2 separate regions of the Homo sapiens genome follow, and region 2 is linked to region 1. The links come from fine-mapping of genetic effects on gene expression. A gene starts in region 1. The other region holds a variant in brackets. All regions are shown on one strand. Distances are between the middles of the regions.

The links. PIP is the estimated chance that this variant, and not a neighbour inherited with it, causes the effect.
Region 2: its variant is the best candidate, but not a certain one, in a credible set for the expression of PRR36 in nasal epithelium (TOPMed, PIP 0.52).

Annotation. Positions count from the first base shown.
Region 1 is chr19:7,872,586-7,875,485 of GRCh38, forward strand. It overlaps PRR36 (proline rich 36), which reads right to left and starts at 1,805. Exons shown (of 6, transcript NM_001190467.2): 1 at 1,701-1,805; 2 at 834-1,111; 3 at 612-714; 4 at 264-376; 5 at 1-171. The coding sequence starts at 1,104. RefSeq lists an enhancer at 1,007-1,523.
Region 2 is chr19:7,896,419-7,899,318 of GRCh38, forward strand. It overlaps LRRC8E (leucine rich repeat containing 8 VRAC subunit E), which reads left to right. Exons shown (of 3, transcript NM_025061.6): 3 at 2,243-2,900. Among named protein-coding and RNA genes, the nearest start is that of MAP2K7, 6.0 kb to the right of the region's middle. The variant A/G (reference allele first, on the strand shown) is at 1,210.

The DNA of each region.
Region 1 (2,900 bases):
GCTCGGTGGTACTGTGCTCCGAGGCGCTGCTCACTGATTTCCGGGGGCCCTCTGTCGGGGGCCGTGGCCGGGCACTCGGAGCTGGCCGGGGGAGCCCCACCTCGGTGCCCGCAGCCCGGGACCGACGGGCCATGGCCGGGGACGGGGTTCCTGGGGTAGGCCCGGAAGTGTCTGGAGAAAAAGTAGAAGGCCAAGGGTCACCGATACCTCTGAGGCGGCTCCCCTTGCTGCCCAGGAACCCCACTCTTCTCCAGGTCACGTACCTCTCCGTGCCCCAGCGCTGAGGGCACTCCTTTTGGGAGCCTCTGTAGCTTTTCCTCTGGCCACAGTTTCCTCCGCTGAGATCCGGAGTCCCTTCTGGCCAAGAGGGCCTGGCCTGGAGACAGAAGGGGCCACGCTCAGGCCTAGGTCTTTGTTTGGCTTCCCAAGTCTCTATTTTCCCATCTGTGAAATGGGCATGTGCCCTCTCTGAGGACCAATAATGGCTTTCACCCAATTTGTGCCCAGTGACCTGCAAGTGCTCCCGCGCCCCAACTCGTGTAAAATAAAAGGTTCCAGACTCTGTGACGCTAACCCTGGCTTAGGAGACTGGGGGAGAGGGAGCAGGTTACCTGGTGGTCCCGCTGGCACGCCCTGGGCTAGAAACAGGGCCTGGGCTGGTGTTCTTGGCAGGAGGAGCTCTCTCCCCTCTCCCAGAGGCTGGGGGCCTGGAGGCTGCGGGGAGAAGGCCGAGTCACAGGTGCCCCGGAGAGGTGGCAGTGGAGGTGAGACTGGACAGGTATTGGAAGGGGGAGGGAAGATGGGGGCGGAGCTGAGGAAGGAGGCTGGGGTACCAGGGTTTCGGGAACTTGTCCCAGCACTCCGCGTTGGTCCCGCTCGGGGAGCAGACTCGGGAATAGTGGCCCCGCCGATGCCCCCCGCTCGCTCTGCCAGAGGCTTTCGCCCCACTGCTCCCGCAGCTCCCAGAACTCGGAGGGCTGCGGGAGTTACTGGGGGAGGGGGTCGAGGAGAGCCTGGGGGCCTGGGGGTCAGAAGTCCAGGAGCGCGAGCAGCCGGCGTCCGCGCGGCGGCCCCTGCCTTCGCCTTGTCTCTCTTGTTGTCCATCTTGCACCTGAAGAGACAAACCGGTCCGCATCCCAGGTTCTGGACAGCTACGCCGCCTCCAGAGACCTGGACCCTGCTACCTCACTGCCCTTTCGCAGCATCGCCACCCATGGACACTCAAACCTCGGCCTCGGCTTCCATCCGCTCGGCTCCCACGCACCTACACCCACTCGCCAGCCCCACTGCTCCTCGCTGTCCCCAAGTCCCACCCCCCACCGCTTTTCCCTAAAGCGAAGAGGCCCTGCCCGCCCCAGCCCACCGCCTCCCCCGCCTCGGCTCCAATTCAGGACCGATCTCCACGCCCCTGCCCCTTGCCCCTTCAGGGACTCAGACCGCCAGCCTCGAGAGCGGGGGACTGCCACGGGCTCAGGATGTCGCATCCCTCCAGACCCGGAGCGCACGCCCGGGTCTCCCCGCCAGCCCCCATCGGCCTCCCCTGGCCTCCCCGAGGGATGCCTGCACCTGCCGGGAGGCAGAGCGGCCCCGCTGCCCGCGAACGGGCTCCGGGAGACAAAGAGCCGCGTCCCGGGCCCGACCCCTCCCCCAGCCGGGCCTGGCCCGCGCCCAGCCTCTCCACCTGCTCGCGTCGCGCTCACCTCCGCCTCCGGCCTCCGGCCGCTCCTCACAGAGTCGCCTGGGGTGGGGCCCGGGCCGGAGCGACGCGGTGGCCGCCAGCGGCGAGGAGGCGAGGGGAGGGGGCTGCGGGCTGCGGCGCCGGGGGAGCCGAGCCGGTCCCGCCCCTCGGCCGCGGGCGGGAGAGCCGGGGGCGCGCGCTCGATCCGGACCCGGGAGCGCGGCCGGCGGAAGCGCGCCGAGGGGGATGGGGGAGAAGCGCGCTTTGGAGAGAAGGGTGGCTTCTCTGCGGTCCGGGGGAAGCCTGTTTCCCCAGCTGCGCCTGAGGAACCCAGATAGTCAACGGTTGGGACTGGGGGAGCAAATCCCTGGGGTCCTCCACTGTCCTTCCCAACACATACACCTGCCCCGACCCCCACCACAACCACCTGGCACCAAGGACCGCCTGGACGCGGATAGGCTGGGCCCTGGCAACCAGGAGGCGGGACCACCGCGCCTCTGGCCCACACACCAATCCGGCCGCTCGGTGGCCCTGGCACTATCCAGTCCTTCGCGTCTGCGAAAGCTAGGCCGCCCAGGGTCTCTGGGGGGCAGCCGCCCTCCGCCCCACACCCGAAGGTGTTCCCCAGACGCCAGGAAACCCCTTATCTGGTTGGGGGGTCGAGGGACTGCTAAGAGAATGCTGCCCTGGGAATTTCAGGATGCAAGGTAGACCCCAGATTTTGGGGAAGATAAAGAAAGGAATAGGAGGGAGAGCGACAGGAGACACAGTATATTCTGTGAGAGGTGACCCAGCCGTCTGCAGGGTAGAGCACGCCCACCCTCCACACCCTCCCAGCTAACGGGATGTCAAGTCAGCCCAGACTTCCTGGCAGAGCTGGGCTTCCGGGGGACAAGGTTCTGTCGACCTAGCAGGTGTCAAAACAAGTGCATAAGGCCGGGCGCGGTGGCTCACACCTGTAATCCCACTGCTTTGGGAGGCTGAGGCGGGCGGATCACTTGAGCTCAGGAGTTCGAGACCAGTCTGGCCAACATGGCGAAACCCTGTCTCTACCAAAAAATACAAAAATTAGCCGGGCATGCTGGCGAGCACCTGTAATCCCAGCTACTCGAGAGGCTGAGGCAGGAGAATCGCTTGAACCCGGGAGGCGGAGGTTACAGTGAGCCGAGATTGCGCCACTGCACTTCAGCCTGGGCGACAGAGTGAGACTCTGTCTCAAAAA
Region 2 (2,900 bases), 24 kb after region 1:
CAAATATTAGCCAGGCATGGTGGTGGACACCTGTAATCCCAGCTACTTGGAAGGCTGAGGCAGGAAAATTGCTTGAACCTGGGAGGTGGAGGTTGCAGTGAGCCGAGATCATGCCACTGCACTCCAGCCTGGGTGACAGAACGAGACTCCATCTTAAAAAAAATAAAATAAAATAATTGAAAATTAAAATAAAGAAACACGGTCTCATTCTGTCATCCAGGTTGGAGTGCAGTGGCATGATCACAGCTCACTGCAGCCTTGAACTCCTGGACTCAAGTGATCTTCCCGCCTCAGCCTCCAGAGTAGCTGGGATTACAGGCACACACCACCACGTCCAGCTAATTTTTAAATTTCTTGTTGACACAGGGGTCTTGCTATGTTGCCCAGGCTTGTCTCGGACTCCGGGCCTCAAGCCATCCTCCCACCTCGGCCTCCCAAAGTGCTGGGATTACAGGTGTGAGCCACTGTGTCCAGCCCCATATTTTCACAATGCTCAGTTTTATCCCTAGAATCTGGAAAGGACTGCAGTTGCTATATGAGTTTGTTACTTCTGTTGTAACAAAGTAGCAGGGATTGAGTGGCTTAAATAACCAGAAATGTTTCCTCTTCTGGGTCTGGTTCTGGAGGCCAGAAGTCTGAGATCAAGGCGTCAGTTGTCAGTGAGGGAGAATCTTCCAAGCTTCCCTCCTAGATTTTTGCAGCTCCAAGAGTTCCTTGGCTTGTAGATGACATTCTCCCAGTATTTTTCTTTTTCTTTTTCTTTTTTTTTTAGACAGAGTCTCCCTCTGTCGCCCAGGCTGGCATGCAGTGGTGCGATCTCGGCTCACTGCAACCTCCGCCTCCCGGGTTCCAACAATTCTCCTGGCTTAGCCTCCCAAGTAGCTGGGATTACAGGCGTGTGCCACCACGCCCGGCTAATATTTTTTTGTATTTTTAGTAGAGACGTGGTTTCAGTATGTTGGCCAGGCTGGTCTTGAACTCCTGACCTCGTGATCAGGATCAGCCTGCCTCTGTCTCCCAAAGTGCTGGGATTACAGGCATGAGCCACTGCGCCTGGTCGAGACAGTTTTTTTTTTTTTTTTTTAAGCAAGCTCTGTCACCTAGGCTGGAGTGCAGTGGCGCAATAATAGCTCACTGTAACCTTGTACTCCTGGCCTCAAGCAATCCTCCTCTACCACCCCCGCTTGGCCCCCCCTCCCACTGCCTCCC[A/G]AATCACTGGGATTACAAGCCTGAGCCACCGCACCCAGCCTCTCCCTGTATCCTCACGTCATCTTCTGTCTTTGTGTCTGTCTCTGTGTCTATGTTTCCCCTTTCTCTAAGGCGCAGTCATACTGGGCCCACCCTACTGGCTTTGTCTTGACTACCTCTGCAAAGACCCTATTACCAAACAGGAGCCGCCTGACCCAGCTCAAATAATACCACATTCTAAGGATTCGGAGTTGGGACTTCAACATCTTTTGTGGGGACACGATTCAACCCAGCTCCTTTTCTCAGACAAAGACCAGTGCTTTGTCAGTTGTGGTGGCTCATTCCTGTAATCCCAGCACTTTGGGAAGCTGAGGCAGGGGATCACTTGAGGCCAGGAGTTCGAGAGCAGCCTGGCCAACATGGTGAAACCCCATCTCTACTAAAAATACAAAAATTAGCTAGGCGTGGTAGTGCGTGCTTGTAGCCCCGGCTACTCAGCAGGCTGAGGCAGGAGAATTGCTTGAACCAGGAGGGGAAGGTTGCAATGAGCCAAGATTGCACCACTGCACACAGCCTGACAGAGCGAGACTCTTGTCTCAAAAAAAAAAACCAAAAAAAAAAAAAACAGTGCTTAGAGGTTTAGCAAAACTCTTCCAAAATCACAGCTGGCTGGCAACAGTCAGAGATGGGGGGTGCGGGGGGTCTCCCACCTTCAGCCTGCTTTTTCCCCATCCCCCTCATTTTCTCTCTTTTTTAAATTAATTTATTTTTGAGACAGAGGCTCACTCTGTCACCCAGGCTGGAGTACAATGGCGCGATCTCGGCTCACTGCAACCTCCATCTTCCGGGTTCAAGCGATTCTCCTGCCTCAGCCTCCCGAGTAGCTGGGATTACAGGTGCCCACCACCATGCCCGGCTAATTTTGTATTTTTAGTAGAGACAGGGTTTCACCACGTTGGCCAGGCTGGTCTCGAACTCCTGACCTAAAGTGATCCACTCGCCTTGGCCTCCCAAAGTGCTAGGATTACAGCCCTCATTCTCTTTTGCTCCTCAGGTGACACAGGACAAGATCATCTGTCTACCCAATCATGAGCTCCAGGAGAACTTATCAGAGGCCCCGTGCCAGCAATTGCTGCCTCGGGGGATCCCTGAGCAGATTGGGGCCCTGCAGGAGGTTAAAGGCCTTAAGAACAATTTGGACCTGCAGCAATACAGCTTTATTAACCAGCTGTGTTATGAGACGGCCCTGCACTGGTATGCCAAGTACTTCCCTTACCTCGTGGTCATTCACACACTCATCTTCATGGTCTGCACCAGTTTCTGGTTCAAGTTCCCTGGCACCAGCTCCAAGATTGAACACTTCATCTCCATCCTGGGCAAGTGTTTCGACTCTCCATGGACCACCAGGGCCCTATCCGAGGTCTCCGGGGAGAACCAGAAGGGCCCAGCAGCCACCGAACGGGCTGCGGCCACCATAGTGGCCATGGCAGGGACCGGGCCGGGGAAGGCAGGGGAGGGTGAGAAGGAGAAAGTGCTGGCGGAACCGGAGAAGGTGGTGACCGAGCCTCCAGTTGTCACCCTGTTGGACAAGAAGGAGGGTGAGCAAGCCAAAGCCCTGTTTGAGAAGGTGAAGAAGTTCCGCATGCACGTGGAAGAGGGCGACATCCTGTACACCATGTACATCCGACAGACGGTGCTGAAAGTGTGTAAGT